4 linked regions of the Homo sapiens genome follow. The protein of the gene in region 3 interacts with the protein of the main gene of each other region in a pairwise test. Each region holds a gene or a part of one and is shown on either strand. Other genes may lie near its edges. The genes, in order: LMO2, MTFR2, TRIM23 and NEDD9.

Evidence for each region.
Region 1: the proteins of TRIM23 (region 3) and LMO2 interact in binary tests that used the Homo sapiens proteins (3 or more experiments, as listed by UniProt).
Region 2: the proteins of TRIM23 (region 3) and MTFR2 interact in binary tests that used the Homo sapiens proteins (3 or more experiments, as listed by UniProt).
Region 4: the proteins of TRIM23 (region 3) and NEDD9 interact in binary tests that used the Homo sapiens proteins (3 or more experiments, as listed by UniProt).

Annotation. Positions count from the first base shown.
Region 1 is NC_000011.10:33,858,069-33,861,117, forward strand, and holds the end of LMO2 (rhombotin-2), read right to left. Parts: intron 1,508-3,049; coding exon 1,288-1,507; 3' UTR 508-1,287; downstream 1-507. UniProt on the Homo sapiens protein: Acts with TAL1/SCL to regulate red blood cell development. Also acts with LDB1 to maintain erythroid precursors in an immature state.
Region 2 is NC_000006.12:136,233,296-136,240,343, reverse strand, and holds part of MTFR2 (mitochondrial fission regulator 2), read left to right. Parts: intron 1-523; coding exon 524-878; intron 879-6,844; coding exon 6,845-7,019; intron 7,020-7,048. UniProt on the Homo sapiens protein: May play a role in mitochondrial aerobic respiration essentially in the testis. Can also promote mitochondrial fission.
Region 3 is NC_000005.10:65,589,176-65,593,367, forward strand, and holds the end of TRIM23 (E3 ubiquitin-protein ligase TRIM23), read right to left. Parts: intron 2,774-4,192; coding exon 2,594-2,773; 3' UTR 2,328-2,593; coding exon of another isoform or gene 2,269-2,327; 3' UTR 1,128-2,268; coding exon of another isoform or gene 1,124-1,127; 3' UTR 515-1,123; downstream 1-514.
Region 4 is NC_000006.12:11,229,621-11,236,785, forward strand, and holds the start of NEDD9 (enhancer of filamentation 1), read right to left. Parts: upstream 3,049-7,165; 5' UTR 2,896-3,048; coding exon 2,884-2,895; intron 1,091-2,883; exon of another isoform or gene 819-1,090; intron 1-818. UniProt on the Homo sapiens protein: Scaffolding protein which plays a central coordinating role for tyrosine-kinase-based signaling related to cell adhesion. As a focal adhesion protein, plays a role in embryonic fibroblast migration.

The sequences.
Region 1 (3,049 bases), on a different chromosome or scaffold from region 3:
CTCCGGGGAAGGCAAACACACAAACCAAGGTGCCTGCTTTAAATCCGCAAAGTAAAGGTCCTCTTAACCACTTGTCATAAAACACCCTGAGACACCCGTCTTGGAAAATCGAAGTGTCAAGCTCAGCATCTTTGCCACATTTCAAACTAGGTAATTACCTTCTCTCCCAAAGGGAATCTGCTTTATGTATTTGTGTCCTTTCTAGGTTACAAGTTTCCCAAAGGCAATGATCTTGCCTTCCACTCACTCCATACAATGCTGAAGTGAAATGCATATTGTACAATAACAATTTAATTATTCTACATTCCTCTGAGCTACATGATGACCTGTTACATAATTGCCAGTAATATAGAAATGTGCCTGCCTCATACAAACCCTTGCAATACACAGAAGTTTTTATTTGACCTAAGAGTAAATTGCTTATTTGCTTCTCCTTTAGAAAAGAAAAAGCAGAGCATTTCCCCGCCATCCCAAATTATAAGTCGTAATCAAATAAACAACACTGTATTTCAGTCTGTCATTTTTATTAAGCCTGCAGAGCTGTTTTTTTTTCTACACACGACAAATACTTTGATATAATCTAGGATAATAAAATAGTTGAACAACTTTTTAAGATTTATATTTGTATAGAAACAATCTGTGGAACTCCTCCCCTCAAAATGAAGGTGTCTAAAAACAGTGATTCATCAGCATTGCTTTAAATAATTGTTTGGTTAAAAGTTGTGGTTTCCATTCTCAACCGAAATGCGTCTCCATGCAGTTTTCCTTGGGTCCAAAGCTTAAGGCCTTGGGAAGGGGGCCAAGAAAAAAAGAATGGCCACTCTCCTTTCTGTCCTTCCCTTGTGTGGAGGACAGTGATTGAAACAGGGGAGTTAAAAAGCCAGGAAGAAAAGAAATCAATTGCACATCTCTAGTTCGCAAGCGTCAAAGTCACAACAAGTCTGTACACAACAACTCTCTATCTGTAGATATGAAATTCCATCATGATAGCACAGCGCCTGCTTGCCCCTAAATGTTCCTTTCTTCTGCTAATCATGTCAGTTACTATGGATGGGCTGTGGCCATAAGTTCTCCCTCAAGGGCTGGTCCTTCTGTCACCTTGAAGTGTCAGCCCCTGAATTATGCCACTTGGATGCTATGTCTTGATACCCAATAAAGGTCTACCATCCCCTAAGAAATCCCTTACCCCACCCTCAAACCCCCAAAGTGCCTAAGAGTGAAGACGAAGATGCCATGGAGACGGCGTCTTCAGTGAACACCTCCCCAAAGATGCCCGGGGACTCGGGCCTATATCATCCCATTGATCTTAGTCCACTCGTAGATGTCCTGTTCGCACACTATGTCAGAGTTGATGAGGAGGTATCTGTCACCTACACAGAAATGCTTCTGACAGGCGGCGCATTTGAAACATTCCAGGTGATACACTTTGTCTTTCACCCGCATTGTCATCTCATAGGCACGAATCCGCTTGTCACAGGATGCGCAGAGACCGTCTTGCCCAAAAAGCCTGGGGCAAAAGAAAGAAAAGCTAAGAAGACAGTGAAAGGGACAATCCTGGAAGACAGGGCTCGGGGATGAGCCCTAGAAAGGAGGCCGAACTTTCAGGATGTCAGGAAGCCAGGGAAGGTCGGCTCCAGAAGGAGGGCCGGCTAGTGCAGTCTTCACCAGCAGGCAGAGGGAACTCAGATGAAACTGGCATTTGGATCTGGCATAACTCCTCCCTTTTCTGAGCCCTCTCCTTGTCTGCAGCAACCGCTCATCATTCCCCTAGGCTGCCCCCTGGCTCCTCCTCTGTGGGCAAGGCTCTCAGCTGATGTGATCTATCATAAGGAGTTAGGCAAGTATTACCTGTCCCCTCCCAGGGGAACCCTCATTTCAGAAGAGCAGCTGGAGAGAGACCCTAGGGGCCCCTTTGAGAGGGTACTGACCAGGAATGCAATAAAACGGGCATTCTTCTGAGGCTCCCAAACTCTATCATGTCAACAGCCACTGATTCTACCCATGGGGAGAGCTGGCCTTGAATACCTCCATAAGCTGCAAAGCACATCTCCCCCTGATTATTCGCTGGGGCCCCAGCTGCTGGGAGACAGGGAGTTCCACAGAAAACACGCGGTGCAGCTAATCGTGCCTCTGAGATATGGAGGACCAACAGCATCTCTCCACCATGAAGGGAGGATCTTAATTCATGGCCCTCGCTGCCCACTGGCATGAATCAAAAGGGAAACTTCTTTTCTGACATTTAAATCAAGACTCTCCCAAGCCTCAGTTGATCAGTCACTTATTTCAGGCAGTATTCAGTGTCAAGGTGGGAGACAGAACATGGCAGGGCTCAGTGCAGTGGTTCTCAAAGTGTTGGTCCTGGGACCAGCGACATCAGCACTGCCTGGGAACCTGACAGAAATACAAATTCTCAGGCTGGGCGCAGTGGCTCACACCTGTAATCCCAACACTTTGGGAGGCTGAGGCAGGCAAATCACTTGAGCTCACAAGTTCGAGACCACCCTGGGCAACATGGTGAAACTGTGTCTTTACAAAAAATACAAAAATTAGCCGGGTGCGGTGGTGCATGCCTCTAGTCTCAGCTATTAATACTTGGGAGGCTGAGGTGGGAGGATGGCTTTAGCCCGGGAGGTGGAGGTTGCAGTGAGCCGAGATCATGCCACTGCACTCCAGCCTGGGCCACAGAGCCATACCTTGACTCAAAAGAAAAGCAAAAACTAAACAAACAAACAAAAAAACAAATTCTCAGCCCTCCTCCTTCCCTACCCAACTGAGACACCCTGGGGAGAAGGCCCAGCAGTCTGTGCGTTAATGAACACTTCCGGGGGACTGGTTGCAGGCTGACATTTGAGAATCAACAGCAAAAGTGCAGTAACACAAGTACCGGAAGCAGAGAAGACCCAGCTTCAATGTCCCGGACCAGCCCTGAGTGACCCTGGAGAGACCTCTGATTCTCTGAGCCTCAGTGAAATGGCAGCCATCATAGGCTCCACCTCACTCAGCTGTTAAAACAACCAAACGAAGCATGTCAGGGCACCCATGGTCAAGG
Region 2 (7,048 bases), on a different chromosome or scaffold from region 3:
TGATATATAACTATACACAGTTTTCTTAAGCAATCGTGTTTACCCACAGTCCTTTATGAGCAAATCTTAAAGTGGAAAAGTTAAATACTCAGTACCCATCTTAAGCTTTGCTTAGAAAATAATATGCTTATTTCTCCAATGTCATTATACAGTGAATACATCAATTTGTGTTTCTAACTACAAGTTGTTGATTTCTGTTTTAGCTTTTTTAAAATAGAGGATGAAGTTCAGAGTGTATGTGAATTACTGAAAAAACTCTTTTTTTTGTTTGTTTAAGATGCATTCTCCTCCCCGCTCTGCTCTTGGACCTACACTGAAAATTCCTAACTGGATTAAAAATGAATTCACAATTTGACTTGACTCTTAAATTACTAAGCAGATGGGATTGACACTCTTTCCTTGCTACCATATCGCTACTAGCATTACAGAAATTGCTCCTGTTTTGGTTCTAATTAGTGTTATTAATATATATTACGTTAGAGATAATTGTGCATGATTTTGTAATAAACCACTTTGTTTGTAGGTTCCTTTGGCTTGAGTGACGAGCGCATTAGTTTGGGTCAGCTGTCATCATCGCGGGCTGCCCATCTGAGTGTGGACCCAGATCAGCTTCCAGGTTCAGTGCTTTCTCCTCCTCCTCCTCCACCACTTCCTCCTCAGTTTTCATCTCTCCAGCCACCGTGTTTTCCTCCCGTACAACCAGGATCTAATAATATTTGTGACTCAGATAATCCAGCAACTGAAATGAGCAAACAGAACCCGGCTGCTAATAAGACCAATTATAGTCATCATTCAAAAAGCCAGAGAAATAAAGATATTCCAAACATGTTGGACGTTCTAAAGGATATGAATAAGGTTAAGCTTCGTGCAATTGAGCGGTATGTTGTTGTAATTTGAAAAGTGAACTGAAATTTTGTCAATTTTATGTTTAGAAAAATTATTATGTTTATGAAAATTAACATATATGTCTTTTTTCTTATTCTTCTTCACCCCTGAATACCTCTCCTAGAGATAATGACATTCAATTATTTTTGACTATTTCTTCTTCTAGTCTCTTATCACCATATTTTTGAAACAACATACTTATTTGCTATTTCTTGATATTTTAATTATGTTGACTTCCAATTGTAGGATATTAGGAATATATTTTCTTAGATACTCTACCCAGGACACACACACACATCTTGCCACGTCTTCCTGAAATAGTTAAACCACAATCTTTAGTTAAATGAGTATTCAGAATTAATATCCTTATTATAACAGTGAACATCCACAGTAAGCCATTTCTCATATTGTAACCCAGGCTGTAGGGCAGTGTTGAAATTACAGCTCACTGCAGCCTCGACCTCCTGGGCTCAAGTGATCCTCCCACCTCAGCTTCCTTAGTAGCTGGGACTATAGGCATGTGCCACCATGCCTGGCTAATTTTTGTATTTTTTTGTAGAGATGGGGTTTCGCCATGTTGCCCAGGCTGGTCTCTAACTCCTGAGCTCAAGCGATCTGCCCATGTTGGCCTCCCAAAGCGCTGGGATTACAGGTGTGAGCCACTGTGCCTGGCCCCATTTCATATATTTTGACTACATTTTATTTGTTGAATAATTTTTTTAGAGTTAATAATTGCCTCTCTGAGTTCCATGTGTGTGTGTGTGTGTGTGTGTGTGTGTGGTGAAAAAACATAATGAGCTCTATTCTGTTAACAAATTTTTATGTGTATAATACAGTATCGTTAAGCACAATGTTGTACAACAGATCTCTAGAGCTTTTTCATCTTGCATAACTGAAATTTTATACTCACTGAACAGTAATCATTTCCCTCTCCCCTCATCCCCTGGCAACTGCCATTCTTCTTTCTACTTCTATAGTTTGATTACTTTATTTTTTATTTTATCTTATTAAAAAAAATAGAGACAGGATTTCACTGTGTTGCCCAGGCTGGTCTTGAACTCGGCTCAAGTGATCCTCCTGCCTCGGTCTCTCAAAGTACTGGGATTACAGGCAAGAGCCACTGTGTCTGGCCCAGTTTGATTACTTTAGATGCCTCATATAAGTGAATCATGCAGCATTTATCTTTTTGTGACTGGCTTATTTCACTTAGCATGCTGTATATTGTATGTATATATCCCATTTCTTAATCCATTCATCTGTTGATAGACATTTAGTTTGCTTCCATGTCTTGTCTATTGTAAATAGCACTGCAATGAATGTGGGTGTGCAGATATCTCTTTGAGATGCTGATTTCACTTCTTTTGGATAAGTACCCAGAAGTGGGATTGCTGGATCATAGGGTAGTTCTATTTCTAATTTTTGGATGACCCTCCATTTAGTTCTTGGTGATTCTCCTCAAGGATCCCTCTGTGCCTGAAGGATTTCCTTCGCTTACCTCTTGAGCATTCTTGCCCCCTTTTTTCTATGCTGCATCACTGATTTCCTAAATGTCATATCTTCCTATAGCTTCCTGAGAAACATAAAGGGTAGATTAGTTTACTACTTTGCATGTCCAAAAATGTTCTTTTATTCTTTTTTTTTTTTAGATGGAGTCTGGCTCTGTCGCCCGGGCTGGAGTGCAGTGGCATGATCTTGGCTCACTGCAGCTTCTGCCTCCTGGGTCTTGGTTCAAGCAATTCTTTTGCTGCAGCCTCCCGAGTAGCTGGGATTACAGGCACGTGCCACCATGCCCAGCTAATTTTTGTAGTTTTAGTAGAGACAGGGTTTCACCATGTTGGCCAGGCTGGTCATGAACTCCTGACCTTGTGATCTGCCGGCCTCGGCCTCCCAAAGTGCTGGGATTACAGGTGTGAGCCACCACACCTGGCCCACATTTTTAATTTTTAAGAGCTGTTTCTTTTTCTTCAAATGCTTCTTGTTAAAATCTTTTTGGTTTTGTTGGTCTTATCCCACTGACAGTATTAAAAGTGTAGGTTTGTTTTAAGTTTCCTCTGTTCTTGAATTACTGTATTTTTTGTGAGTTTCTTTTTTCCTTTTAGCTTTGATCTCTATCTTTAGTTTTGTAGCCTTGGGTAAGCATCTGGTGATTCTTATTTAAAATGAGGCAAGGAAAAGCTGATCGCATGTTCTTTGTGTGAGGTGGGCTTATCAACTTGGGAGCTTCACAGTTTAGTGATTAGGGAGAGGACCATTTTGTTGGCCACACCCCAGAGCTGTATGTCTTTTCTTTTGGGCTACAGGATTTTCCTTAGAAAGTTCTTCATTCTCCCTTGTGGTCAGGAGGGATGGGGATTACACAGCGGGTGCAAGTCAGGTCATTGGAGAGCTGAGTGGGGAAAGAGGAGCAAGAGAGAAGTGTCTTATTTAGCACACGCCCTGTGTTCAGCAGGGCGCCCACGCCCCATGCTCTCACTTTCATCAGCTTTCCAGCTTCCGGCATCTGGTTGCAATTCTTATCTCCTGTCTCCCCTTCTAATCTCTTTGTCCTTGTGGATATATAGATCTTTTTCATTTCTTTACTGTCATTTTAGTAGGATTTCACAAGGGATTTGCCATGCTTACTTGGAAATCCCTCAGTGAGGTTTTCGGTGAGAAAATAGATATATTTTCTGTATGATAGTCCTGGGACAGATAAGTCAGTTCTGTTTTTAATGAGGTTGTGAGTTTGATCCTTGCAACGATGCAGAAGGGCTCATTTTAAGTGAAATCCTTGTGAAGAGGAAAGAGAAGGGAAACCAGTAACCACAGGAAGAGCATGAGGCAGCTTGTTGAGAAGAATCTCATGGCTGTAGGTGCATGCTTGGTCCCAACTAGATCTTGTACTTGTGTTGTCGGGCTTAGTATCAAGTGGCAACTCTGTGACTGTTACCATCACTGGAAAAACAACTAAAAGGCCAGTAGCCTCTGCCTCCTGTCCCCCTATTCTCTCCTGAGTTGCCTCTACAGCTAACTTTGTTTTGTACGTTGCTGAGGAATCAGATGAGCTCTCTCACCTCTTTACACCTACAGATTCCCCGTGCAGATTCTCTGCCTTCCATCTTGCTGTTGGGAGCCAAGTGTCATCATTCATGGCCAGGCTCTTCCTTTGGTTACTGGTTTCCCTTCTCTTTCCTCTTCACAAGGATTTCACTTAAAATGAGCCCTTCTGCATCACTGAGTCTTCCTTCTATACTTCATCCTTCTCCTCACACCTGAGTACTTCCCACCTTCAAAACACATGTACTCTCAGCCGTTGTTCTGTTGTTCTGCTCCCCTTTCTGATATGAATTCTTGAAGTCGTCTATAATTTGTTTCTGTCTATCGCTGCTGCCTTCTACCCATGAAAACTCCATTGAAAACTGCTTCACCAGTGACTCCATGTGGCTAAATCCACTGGTCTCTTAGCATTGCTCGTCTTAGTTGACCTCTTGGCAGCATTTGATACAGCCTATGGTCCCCACCTCCTTGGAGCACTTTCTTTTTTTTTTTGAGACGGAGTCTCGCTCTGTTGCCAGGCTGGAGTGCAGTGGCGTGATCTCGGCTCACTGCAACCTCTGCCTCCTGGATTCAAGTGATTCTCCTGCCTCGGCCTCCCGAGTAGCTGGGACTACAGGCATGTGCCACCATGCTCAGCTAATTTTTGTATTTTTAGTAGAGATAGGGTTTCACCGTATTGGCCAGGATGGTCTCGATCTCTTGACCGCATGATCCGACCACCTTGGCCTCCCAAAGTGCTGGGATTACAGGCATGAGCCACTGCGCCTAGCCTGGAGCACTTTCTTTACTTGGTTTCTGGGAAAGCATACCCCCAGGTTTCCTCTGACCTCATCAGCTATTCCTTCTTATTCCTTAAACTCTTCCCCCTGGGCCTGGTCTTTAAATGTTGAAATACCTGGTTCAGACCTCAGCCCCCTCTCTTCTCTGTCCATGCTGTTTCCTTTGGTGAGCTCACCTAGTCCTATGACTCTAAATACCAGCTGTATGCTTATGACTCAAACGTTTATTTTTCTAGCCCTGACCTCTCCTCTTGAGCCCAGATGCACATACTGAAATGCCTACTTGACATCTTTATTTGCCTGTCTCACAGGTATCTCGTTTCACAGGTCCAAAACAGGACTTTTCCTTCCTACCTGTTCTTTTCCGCCACCTTGAAAACCTGTTCTTTCCCACGTCTTTTGCATATTAGCAAATGGCAACACGATCACCCGGTTGCTTAAGATCTAGGAATCAGGCCAGGTGCGGTGGCTCACACCAGTAAACACAGCACTTTGAGAGGCTGAGGTGGGCAGATCACTCGAGGTCAGGAGTTCGAGACCAGCCTGGCCAACATGGTGAAACCCAGTCTCTACTAAAAATACAAAAATTACCCTGACATGATGGCGCACACCTGTAATCCCAGCTACTAGGAGGCTGAGGCAGGAGAATTAATTGTTTGAGCCCGGGAGGCGGAGGTTGCAGTGAGCCACTATACTCCAGCCTTGGTGACAAAGCGAGACTCCGTCTCAAAAAAACAAAAACAAATATCTAGGAATCATCCTTCATCTTTATTTTCCATTCTATCTCCCACCGTTCCCATCAGCACATAGCTCAATTCTGTGGACCTCTTGACCTCCACTGCCAACTCCCCAGGCTAAGCCCATTCTTATCTAGCTTAGACTTCCGCAGCAGCCTCCTCAGTGATCTGTTTTCATTCTTGCCTCCTTATTTATTCTGCAGATAGTGACCAGAAGTCAGATCAGGCCATTCTCCTGCTTCAGACTCTTCTGTGGGTTTCCGTTGTGCTTGAATCAGTTCTAGAGCCCTTGCTGTGTCCGTAGGCCCCTCCAGGAGCCAGCCCTCACTTCTCTCGCTGAGCTCCTCTCCTATGCCCCATGTTTGCCCACTGCACTCCAGCTGCAGTTGCTTTCTTTTTTCCGTTTCTCACACATGCCAAGCTCCTTCCTGATGCAGCCCCAGATGTTTACACTAAAACTGACCCCTTGTCATTTTCTTAAAGAGGATGTTGCTTCCTTAAAGAGGCTTTTTTTCTGATCATATCTAAAGTGCTTCTGTCCCTAATCACTATTACATTTCCCTATTTTTTATTTTTTAATTTAGTTTTTTTTTTTTTTTTTTGAGACAGGGTGTTGCTCTGTCACCCAGGCTGGAGTGTAGTGGTGCCATGACTTGCTGCAGGCTTGACCTCCTTGGCTCAAGTGATCCTCCTGCCTTAACCTCCCAAGTAGTTGCCTGGCTAATTTTTAAATTTTTTCTAGAGATGGGGTCTCGCTATGTTACCCAAGCTGCTCTCGAACTCCTGGGCTCAGGCAGTCCTCCCACCTTGGCCTCCTAAAGTGCTGGGATTATAGGCATGAGCTACCGTGCCCAGCCTCTGTTTTGTTTTATTCACAGCTCTTATTACCAGCCAAATGATCTTACTTGTATATTGATGATAATCTTGCTGTAAGAATTGGGAGCAGAATACTCCCAAAGCATAAAATGGAGTCGGATGTGGTAGTGGGCATTCAATGAAGATTAAATGAATGAACAACCAAACAAATGAACAATTTGCGTAATTTTTTTTTTTTTGGCATGAACTCTCGTCCTTTTAAAAGTTCTTATTTATTTGAATTTTCCTACCCATTAGGAAATTAGAAAATTACCATAATAAAGATCTTCAGCATAGTGACATCTGACAAATCTCAGGTCATAACAAGGTTATGGCAGAGTCTCAAGTCACATGGGTTCTTGGTTTTCTGATTCTTCATTCATTGTGCCTTCCTTATTTCATTGCGAAAATTTCTTGAAGATTAGATTATTTTCAATCTCTTGAAGACTAATTAAATTGTAAGATATGCTTGTATTCCTGCCATGTTTGTCAACAAGGAGCTAAAATTACATCCAAGTTTTAATAAATTCAATTTTTTTTTTTAAAAAATAGGTCACCTGGCGGTAGACCCATTCATAAGAGGAAAAGACAGAATTCACATTGGGATCCAGTTTCTTTAATATCTCATGCACTTAAACAGAAATTTGCATTTCAAGAAGATGATTCTTTTGAGAAAGAGAATAGATCTTGGGAATCTTCCCCATTTTCTAGTCCAGAAACTTCAAGGGTAAGCTACACTAATGTAAAATTAATTTT
Region 3 (4,192 bases):
AAAGCCTTTCTCTTAGCAGTATTAGTTCATGAGCTACCACTAAGTTTTGCAAGCCATTTTCTAAAATGGTCATTTAAAATACTATGTTTTCTTATGAAACAAGTTTACATTTAAAATTTAAAAGGCAGTAACAAAGTTTCACTTCGTTCAATGTAAAACTTTAGCTCCGCCTTCAAAACACTATGGTTATATTACTTATTTAAATGTGGCCTGCACATTACTTCTCGGCCTTTTGGCTAAGATCAGGTGTAGTTAAGATCAAGTTTAGTATCTGTTCTCATCAGTAAATGTGGCCTATGTTGCAAATTCAAAACGTTATTTCTAAAATTTTGCTGTATCAAATAAACTACATCTCAAATTTGACAGGCATGCCAACCCATACCCATTTTGTTTTATTTTCTCTCCTAACCACAGCACAAATAATGACTTCTTAAATTGGTTACAACTAGCAATAATATTAGGTAGATGGTTCAAGAAAGAGACTTTCAAGAATAATGATGGGACTTCTTAAAAATGATCTTAACATTTTATTGCTGTCTATACTTATCATATATGTAGTGCAAATAATGGCTTCTGATGGTTATAAAGCATTCCTGAATTATAGACTACGGCTATACACTTGACATACCTGCTTTATATAACATACAGTAATATTTAGACCTAATACAGAAATTCAGCTACTAGGAAAATTCTAATATACTGTATATAAAAAAGCTCTCTTCTTAGTTTCCCAGGGAAGACTAGCACAGTCTTAACTAATGATTAGTGAAATAATACAACCACAAATAGTAATAGGAGCTTGAGAAAAATATTTCTTTAAAAATGAATCACACACAAACACCTACCATTATACATACATTATAATCAGGCACAATTTTTCAACTGTGTTCAGTTATATGCTAAGAATGTGCATTACAAAGTTTAGCAAAATTAGTGAAAAGGGAAGCAAGTTCACCTTAGTGTTACACTTTTTCTTCAATTAACTAGTAAACAGTTCAAGTTCTCACAAGCAATACAACACCTTTTTTATTTTTCACAGTTATTGAAATCAGTCAAATATTAAATAATTTAATTCGGAAGTATTATTTATGCACACAAACTACACCTGTAACAGCATGACCTTTTACCTGAAAAATAAAGGATGAAATATTACATTTATTTATTTACATATTGCCCATAATACTGATAGGCTTTTTTTTTAATGCTTTGTTTTCTAAAACTTGTATTGTTTTTAAACAAAAATAGATTTGAAAAGAATGAACCACAACAGTGCTACCAAAAAGTCACATCTTGTTACCAGACATCACTGTCCTTACAACAATTCAACTAATAAGATTTAAGATTTAACTTCATCCTAATGTATCAGAACATTAAAAAAAAAAAAGTCTCAATGTACCTATTTAAATAAATCGTGCTTCCATAATAATATTCTTTAAAAATGAAAAACAGTAAAGAGCACACATTTTTATTTACTCACAACACTGAATAATTAATGTAAACTTTTTGAATTTTTTTTTTCTTTAGACATTTTTCCTCTAGAGTAACTTTTCAAGGCCTTCTCATGAACAGCCTTAAGTTTTATTGTCAAAATAAATGCACTTATTTTGGGAAACAGTTTGAAGTAAGTAATAAGCATTTGCCACTGTACTTACAACTTCTCTTGAAGTTCGCTTTCTATTTAGGTCACTAGCTTTTAAATAAAGCCAACCCTGGTTCTGCGTTACTTACTACATTTTACCTATAGTCATTCCCACAAAGGATGCAATATTATATTAGAAAGAAATATTACTTTAAATTTGTTGAAAAATAGAAGGACCAATTTAGAGCTCTGACCTAGGTTCAGTCCTGGAAATGGGTCTTTCATAAATTCAGATCCAATTACTTCCACAGTTTTATTACTGTTCAGTTTATTACTAACCTGACAAGCCTAATTGGGTAACATTTCACTCCCTCATTGTGTTTTATACAAAATGCTGTAGGAGAAAGTTAATAAAACACTATATAAAGTATTAATTTTCTGTACCTTATAGTTCTTAGCATTAAAGGTGTTCTGTTAACTCTGAACATAAACATAAAGTAATCCTATTATCCAAATATGTAGTTTGGATTCTATTTCATTAAGCAACTGTCATTTCTACTACTAAATGCTGCCAACATTCAGTGAAAAGGCAGGTTAAAAGAAGCAGCTATACTTCACTTGCTTCACACAGAGGTCTCATTAGGCACTCAATTGGCTATTCTTTTTTCACTGAAAGAATAAACCTTCACTTACCCTTTCTCTGTGACTACCTCTTTCCCAGTATATTGGTCACATATTATCTGAAAAACTTAAATAACAAATATACTTTTTAAAAGAATGTATATTCAATAAGTTTCTATTTAATTCAATCTAATCTGCTCAATTAGAAATTTAATTCTGCCACAAAATTTTTTTAAAGCAAAGTACTGAATTCCCAATCCAAGATTCCTTTATATATATATATATATATATGCATCCTAAATTACCATCTTTTGAGATGTATAATTTCTTAAAACATACTATGTGCAAAGTTACTTTTAACCACAAAACTTCAAACAACTGCTGCCTTTAAAATCAAGCAACATCCAATACTCCAGCAGCTACAAGTTGCCGTGAGAGCCAGTCCAACCCTTCATACAGTCCCATACCACTTCGAGCATCACAGCCCTGAATATACCAGCTACGGCCACAGCATAATTTATGGAGACTGAGTAGTTCAGTGATTTCTTCTACTGACAGTGCTCCAGCAACATCCTGAAAGATATATACACATATTTTTTATCAGTCCATCCAAATTATAATTTTTCTAATTATCACCATTTATAGAGAAATTTGTTGACAGTGTTCTAACAGAAGCCTAAACAAAAAACCTAGATTCATCTTTCAGTAATTATTCTGAGATTAATAAGAATAGAAAAAATTAGTTTGGTTTAACTAATTTATATGTGTGTGTATGTATATACTTTGTAAGGCTAGCTTAACAATGAAATCAATAAAGTCCTTGCAACCTAAAAGGAAACATACTGCCTAAGTAATTTTTTTATCTTTTGAGACAGAGTCTCACTCTGTCACCCAGACTGGAGTGCAGTGACATGATCTTGGCTCACTGCAACTTCTGCCTCCTGGTTCAAGCGATTCTCCTGCTTTGGCCTCCCAAGTAGCTGGGATTACAGGCATGTGCTACCATGCCCGGCTAATTTTTTTGTATTTTTAGTAGAGATGAGGTTTCACCATGTTAGTCAGGCTGGTCTCGAACTCCTGACCTCAAGTGATCCACCAACCTCAGCCTCCCAAAATGCAAGGATTGCAGGCATGAGCCACCACGCCTGGCCTGCCTAAGTGTAAGGCATCAACTTAAAAAAAAAAAATTAACACATAGAAACCTTAATAAATGGTTTATATATAGGGTTATATATTGAAGAGTTCACTACATTCCCACTCTGAACACCCATTGCCCCAACTTCCCAGGAGCAACCACCAGTTACAACATATTTTTCCAGAAAATTTCCATGCACACTCATGCAAAGAGACACAAACAGGAACATAGTTTAGACTTTCTATAACTTGCAGGGTTTTCTGTTTGTTTTTTACGTAAACATGTTGAAGATGAGTATCTTTCCATTATCAGCACAGATGGTCTGCATTATTTTTAATATCAGAATTCCCTTCCATTGTGTGGCTGCAACATAATTTAACCAGTCCTATACTGAATGTTCAGATTGAAGTTTTATGCTTATGTGCTATTATAAATCCATATATATACACATACATACATAAACATACATACACAAAAGTTGACATACATTTATGTATATTTGCAAAATTATCTGTAGGATAACCTTTGGATATCTGTCTACCAGATATATAAAGGTAGAATTGCAGGGTAAGGGACTTTGATGAGTATTGCCAAATTGTCCTCCAAGAAAATGTCTCAGTTTAATAACCCACGAACAGTGTTGACCAGGCGCAGTGACTCACACCTGTAATCCCAGCACTTTGGGAGGATGAGGCGGGCAGATCACTTGAGGTCAGGAGTTTGAGACCAGCCTGACCAACACGATGAAACCCTGAATCTACTAAAAATACAAAAGTTAGCCGGGTGTGGTAGCAAGCACCTGTAATCCCAGCTACTTGGGAGGCTGAGGCAGAAGAATCGCTTGAACCTAGGAGGGG
Region 4 (7,165 bases), on a different chromosome or scaffold from region 3:
GGGATTTTGTAGAAAATTCTTAATAAATGAAGCCCCCGTAATTTACTATCACATAACCACAGACTGAATCCCTTCTAAGAGAAATGGAAAATTAAGTACGTATGACAGTGACTGCAACCTTCCTGTGGACAAATAAAAACATACAGGGAAATAAAGACAGATTAGATAAGTGCTAACCAGAAATGTCTGTCCGGAGTAATAGCTTACATTCCACAGTTCTCAGGATTACTGCAAGTACCTTGCTGCCTGGCCTGAAGCTATGTATATTAAGTGCAAAATAAGTGAAGGTTTGTTGTTCCGTAGTTGTGATCCCTGGGGCAGCCAAACCAGATAATCAGGTTAACAACGACAATCTTATAGGGCCTGATTCATAAGTCTTTCAGTAAACATTTTAAGGTTTGTGCTAAATTTACAGTGCATAGAGCAACGTAGTATTTTAGAGATAATTCCTGTCTCTGGGATTTTACCATCTAATAATTATCTGGTTTTACTACCTAAGTGGCTCGAATTAAACAAATAACTGCCAAACATGCACTTCATTTTGCTTTGTAGAGTTACTATCTTAAAAAGAAATTATCCTGCAGGAATACTTGGGATGAAATAGTCTTAAACTTTCTGGGAGAAGAAAACACTGGCCATATTTTAGAGAGGTCAACGATAGCTCTTTCTCTTTCTCTTAATAGTGGTTAAAGTCATGAGTTCTGGAGCCAGATCGCCTTAGTTCTAATCCCAGCTCACCACTTTCTAGCTGTGTGGCATTAGATAAATTACTTAGCCTCTCTGTGTCATTTGAAATTGAGTATAAAAATAATACCCACCTTGTAGAGCTATTGGGAGAGTTGAATATGACAATCTTGTGTTGTCACAGTAAGTCTCAATTAATGTTACTTCATTACTTTTGTGTCTCTCCTCTACTTACAATAACAAAATCCTTTCCTGAAGTAAAGTTGTTCATTATTAACTAGAGAGAAAGAAAACTTTATAAAAAAGGAAAGTGGATTTCTTCAGCTATTGGTTGATTTAATAGTCATCATAGGGCATAAGTCATGTGTTCGGTCGGAGAAGTTAGCTTTTTTGCTGGTGAAGGTGCCTACAAGGTAATAAAAATCATGTATTTACATCATTTGGCAAGGTGTTCAACACCAGTAAGGCCCAGTGGAGAAGCAGGTTTCTCCATGAATGCCAATCGCAGTTTACGCTGTCAGTCACTTTATCAGTTGCCTTTAGATTTTCTTTCCATAAAGAGTAAAGCTAACCACGATGAGATCATTGAATAAAAGTGACTTGAGACTTTGTCGCTTTCGTCACTTTCTAGATTATAGCACTCAATGTTAATTTCAGCCATTTATACTTTCCAATAATAGACATATGAACATACTTTCTCTTTTTTCTGCAAGCCAGTTCTTATTCAACAACAGGGAAAGGAGGAGCAAAAAAGTCACTCCAGGCTGAGTAATATCTGGTCCTATCATTGTTCTAAATAAGGAAATATGGGGTGAGCCACTTTAAGGAAGATAACTTTCCTGCCAAGTAGAGGGATTTGTTTCTGGTTGCATCCTAAAGTCAAATATTAATAGTCTTCAGGATGACCCTTTCCTCTGATCTTCCCTACTGATGAAGATAATAGAAAGCTGATGAAACAGAAATAGCTGATACCTGTGTCTTCAGACAGTGGTAACGTAGGCATTACTATAAAGACTTTTGACATTTAGACTTAAAGCTTTTGAATAAGATTCATAGTTTTTGAACAAAAGCTTTATTACTGAGGCTAGTCAGTGGCTATCAGTTAGACCAAGTATTTACAACCTTACATCAAAAAAGGATGGACCAGAAAAATTTAGAAAAAAAGCGAAGTAGCTTCCAGCTAGTGTACAGTTAATATAAATTGTCAATCCACAAGCCTAGCACCCTTGCCCAAATCCATCTTAATAATAACACTTTTGTTTAAAATAGCATAAAATAAAATAGTAGCACTAGCACTCATGTCTATTCATCATTCAAGAAAAATTCATGTCCAATTCATTGCAGTCTGCTTTCTTTGTGTCCCCTGGAAGCTGCTTGCCTCCTTAGATGGGAGTGACTTAAAAGAAAAAGGGGAGGGGGGAATATACGGAGCAAGTCAAAAATCCTTTTGGCAAGAAAAATCCACAAACAATGGTGTAAAATGCATTGGAAAATAATGCTGCTGAAGTACTATGACTATGACACTCTGTAAGCTTTCAGGCACAATGAGCCAGCCTGAGCCTTCGCACTCTCACCCCATTCAAACTCCAATAAAAATGTTTTCAAGAAATGGCTCATACTTATTTATTCCTACATCCAATATAACATAAGGATGTCAAAATTTTCCATCCTCAGCTGTGTAATCTGGGCTTTTAATTTCTCCCACCAAAAGTGCATATGGCATACTCCTTCCGAGACCAAACGATTAAAGCAAAGTCTGGAAAACTTTGCACTAAGAGCCAGTCTGAGACAGACTATGCAGTCCTCATTCCTCTCATTACAGTTCCCCAGGGCAGTGGAAGCCAGGCCTGGGGAAGCCAAGGAGACTTGAGCCAATGCCTGCCGCGATTCAAGTCAGACACCCTCTGATCTCCAGTGGCTGCTGTGAAGCGGCTCCAAGTCTTAACTTCTCACCGAGGTATTTCCCCGGCAACTTTCAGAGCAGATGGACTCGGGTGTACTGTGAACCCCTGGAGTGGGTCTCAAAGACCGGGTCTCTGCTTGCTTGTCTGCTTGCATGTCAACCTCAGTGACCGAGACTCATCTTAGAACTCTCCGGGACACACAAGGGACTGACAGTAAGGAACACGCATACACAAGCACACACCCGCAGGCACAGCTTTCAGCTTGCAAGGTAACCTGTAAAAGGCACTCTCTTACCTTATACTTCATTTCGGCAGCGGTGGGTTGAGCCGTTTTCCTACACTAGTTAAGACAGCATTAAGCACTGCGGTGCCCGCCCCTCCATTGAGTGCAGCGCTAGATGAAAGCGAGAAGGTCCCGGGCAGAGCCGCTTGTCAGTCGCAGCGCCTCCCTCAAGTCTCTGAGCTCACTGTTGTGACTGAGGCAGGCTGATCGCGGACCTCATTTGCATGCCGCCCCGCCATTGGCTAGTGGGACAAGGTAATGCTCAGGCCCTGCCCACCCCTAATTCTGAAAAACTGACAAAGAACTTGTAATGTGATCGCTTCTTTTTGCTTTATCAGACGGTGGAAAATAAAACAGAAAGTGGGGAACCGTCCTGAACCTTACTCTGTCCTCCCGCCCCCGCCAAAAAAGAAGACAGAAAGAGAAAGAACAGGAAAAGGAGATACATTCTTTTTAAGATTAACCCAAATTTTAAAGAAACTGAATTCACAAAAGCAGTCTGACAGTCGCGCTTCCTGTGACCTAGCAACTCCTTCATAAACCCATTTCGTTTCAAAGCCATTCACCTCACAATCTCTACATGAAACGAACTCCGGGAACAAAAGGTTTTCTGTCTCCGGGCCCCTTTTTACTAACCACCCCTGCTGATACCTCTCTCTCTCTCTGTCCCTTTTTCTTTCCCCCTCCTCCCGCCTACTTTTTGTGTGTGTGTGACTGTTTGCTTTTTTTGTTCTTTTCAACGTTCAAAGTACTTTGCGATGTCAGTCTGCAAGGAGCTGGAAGACAATTCTCCCTTAGTGAAAAGGAACCCTCTAGCACACGCACCAGCGTTTTCCTGGACAGCTTCTCACCAGGGCCTCAGAGTTGCGGGTCACACATATTGAGCGACCTTCAGTGGCTTTGCTGAGGATAAAGGTTAGATGTGACCTCTCGGATGGGGTTGGCCAGTGCACGCCCTATACATCATCACCGTCCACTGAGTTCTGTGTTCTTTGACGGCTGGCATTTCTAGCTCCAGCTTTGAACACTGCAGTGTTTTTCCTTCTGACCTCTGTCCTGAGGATGACCCATTAACCCACCAACACTTATTATCCAGGAGAACGAAAATGCCCACTGTTTGATGAGCCTGGTTAAAAAGACCAGTCTCTCTCCAGCGAAGCACAGAACATAATTTCTATAAAGGTTCCATTTTAGGATTTCTATAGAGAAAGAGAATCACCCAGAAAACAGAAATGGTCACCTTCTGCAACTCTTCTCACGGACAGAGCAGTGAGGCGAAAAATTCCTTTTTCCCGGGCAAGACTGAGACTCGGTGAATCCAGACAATAGCTGTCCCTGAGTGGGATGCACTCCAACCAGACTACATGACTTGGATGGAAAAATCAGCCCTTATTTTTTTTTTTCCTGACCAAGTTGGATCAGAATCTGATTCCCTTCGCGTCTAACACACAAATTCCCAATGGATGAAAACTCTACTTTTATGATCTAAGCAAAAGGAATGAGAGAACAGCTGTCCTACAAAAGTGGTTTCCAGATACAGGGTTGGCAGGTTAGTTTGCAGTTCAGTGTGGCACTGATTCCAGGGACATGACCCCCCAGGCCATCCTAATGAGGTTGACATACCTGTTCCAGCCTGTATTAGGCCTTGCTTCTCCTCATTTGTCCTTAGAGCAAAAATAAGCCTGAGTGATTGTGCAAGGCCTTTCTGAACACAAATTAAGCACGCAGCATATTGCATTGTAACGATCTCCTTAAGAATCCTGCAGACTGACCGGAGAGTCGTTAGTTTGCAGGAAATTGTTTTTGGTGTCTACCTGGATAAAGGAGGACAATGATTCAAAGCCCTTCCCATCTGTAAGATGAGTCTTGCGGCCTCCAAGAGATCTAGATAACATTCCTTTGGCTTCCTAAGTGGTCAAGCTGAATCCTTTTTCTGTTTTGTTTGATGAATATCATTGAGTAAGTGAGTGCTGTCCCATCCTATTTTAATGTTTTCAAACAGTTTCCTAAAGTTTGTGCTGGGGTTTTTTTGTAATTTCATTCTCTAGCTAGTGGCCCTCCTGCTTTCCTGTTTCTGTCCTGTAAGGTAAGTAAGACACATGTAATCTACCCGAAGTTCATTTCAAGAAGGCTTGGGTCAGTATATAGTTAGCTGCCTAAAGGAAAGCACAAGGGTGTTGGAATCAGGTAAACCTGTGCTGGAACCTCAAAACATTTTTAATTTTTTTTTTTTTTTTTTTTGAGACAAAGTTTCATTCTTGTTGCCCAGGCTGGAGTGCAGTGGTGCAATATCGGCTCACTGCAATCCCCGCATCTCTGGTTCAAGCAATTCCCTCAGCCTCCCGAGTAGCTGGGATTACATGTGTCTGCCACCATACCTGGCTAATTTTTTGTATTTTTAGTAGAGACGGGGTTTCACCAGATTGGCCAGGCTGGTCTCGAACTCCTGACCTCAGGTGATCTACCTGCTTCAGTCTCCCAAAGTGCTGGGATTACAGGCGTGGGCCACTGTGCCTGGCCAGTTGAACTTCTTAATTTTGATGTCCTTCAGTATGAAATAGAGAAAATAATAATACCTGCTAGCCTCATAATGAGGATTAAATAAGATAATGTGGATAGAATTTAATAGTACTTGTTACATTGTAAGACCTTAAATGGTTGCTTGTTCTTATTACTGTTGTTATTAGTTATTATTTTAATTAATATCAGATTTATGATATTTTGTTAATATTTTATGACATTATTGCTATATTCTATAGATTATTATTTAATTATTGTATTAATTATAACTAGTATTAATATTAGACTACTGTTGATAAGTGTGGTAGGCATTCAGAAGAAGTTGGAGGAACCCCTTCTCTGTGTGCCATTCTTTCATAAGGCAGCTTTCTCACTGAACTGTTATCACTAGAGCACCTAGCATGTGCCAGGTACCTTTCTAGGAGGGGAGGATACAGCAGTAGCCCAGACAAAGTTCCCATCTTCATGGAGCTTACAGTCTAGTGAGAGTTGAGGAAAATAATTAAATGAATGTATAATATGATTTGCAGTGATAAATGCTATGAAGAAAAATTAAGCAGGGAAAATTGCTGGAGGAAAACAGACCAGGGTGGGACAGGAGGTGTATTATTTTAGATAAAGTGGTCAGGGAAGCTCCTCTGAGGAGATGATATTTAAGCAGAAATCTGAATAGTTTCAGGGATCCAGCCACTCAGAGATCTAGGGGATGAGCATTCCGGACAGAAGTGACCCAGGGGAAGGGCCCGCAGTAGGCACGAGCTTAGTGTGTCTAAGCGCAGCAAGCTGTCTAGTGTGCTTAGCGTGGGGTACACAGGGCTGGATGGAGAGGATGAGCTCAGAGAGGTAGGTGGTAGGGAGCTTGGATTTTTTTCCTGAGTGTGACATGAAGCCTCTGCAGTGTTTTGACCAGGGAGTAATCTGTTTCTCTCCGGTTTGTTAAACACTCAAGGACAGCAGGCTACTAGTTAAAATATTGAGCTCTGGTCTTAATGCAGCTTAAATAATGCAGATAGTTGTTACTTTATTAGTGTCATTTAGTATGTTGCCCTTAAAACTCTTCAGGGAAACACAAATTGTCTCAGTGAATACAGAAACAATTCCCTTCCTCATTTATTACTATCAGATGCAAAAATGATGTTTAAACTGGGCTATGTAATTGATTTATGCAGCAGCCCTAGGATTCCCATAGAGACCCTCCTGAAATTGGCTAGAACTCTGGGCCTCCGGTTCCACTTCCTGCACTTGCCAGCACTCCGGTGGGCATCCCCTCCTGTCATCCTTGCCGCCTGCCTGCTCTTCAACCAAGCACTCTTCCTTCCAGATGCTTGTGCAGGCAGGAGTGAGGGAAATGGCACCGGATGCCATTCTAATGATTTTCCAGCTGCAACTGGGCACTGGCATAAATACAGCAAAAAATCAAGAGGAGGCTAGAAAGAAGAAATACTTCTGTTGACAACTTGGAATGAACCCACGTGACTGCTCTCTAAGAGTGAAGGGCAAAGAGTGAAGAGCATGTGAGGGCAGGAAATGACTTTGGAAATCACCTAATCCAGCCACTCATAGAGAGGGCAGAGCTGTCTGTCGCTCAGAGAGATTGAGTGCCTCACACAGGGCCCCACCAGTTTGAGTTATAACAGCAATTGGTGGTGAGGTCAGGCCCCTGAATCTCTTGGTCTGGTCTATTCTAATGATTTCTTTTTAGTTTCTTTGCCTAACTCTCTCACTGCTGTCATCTATCTTCCACGTTGCTCACTACGTGTTTAATTCCTGGAAT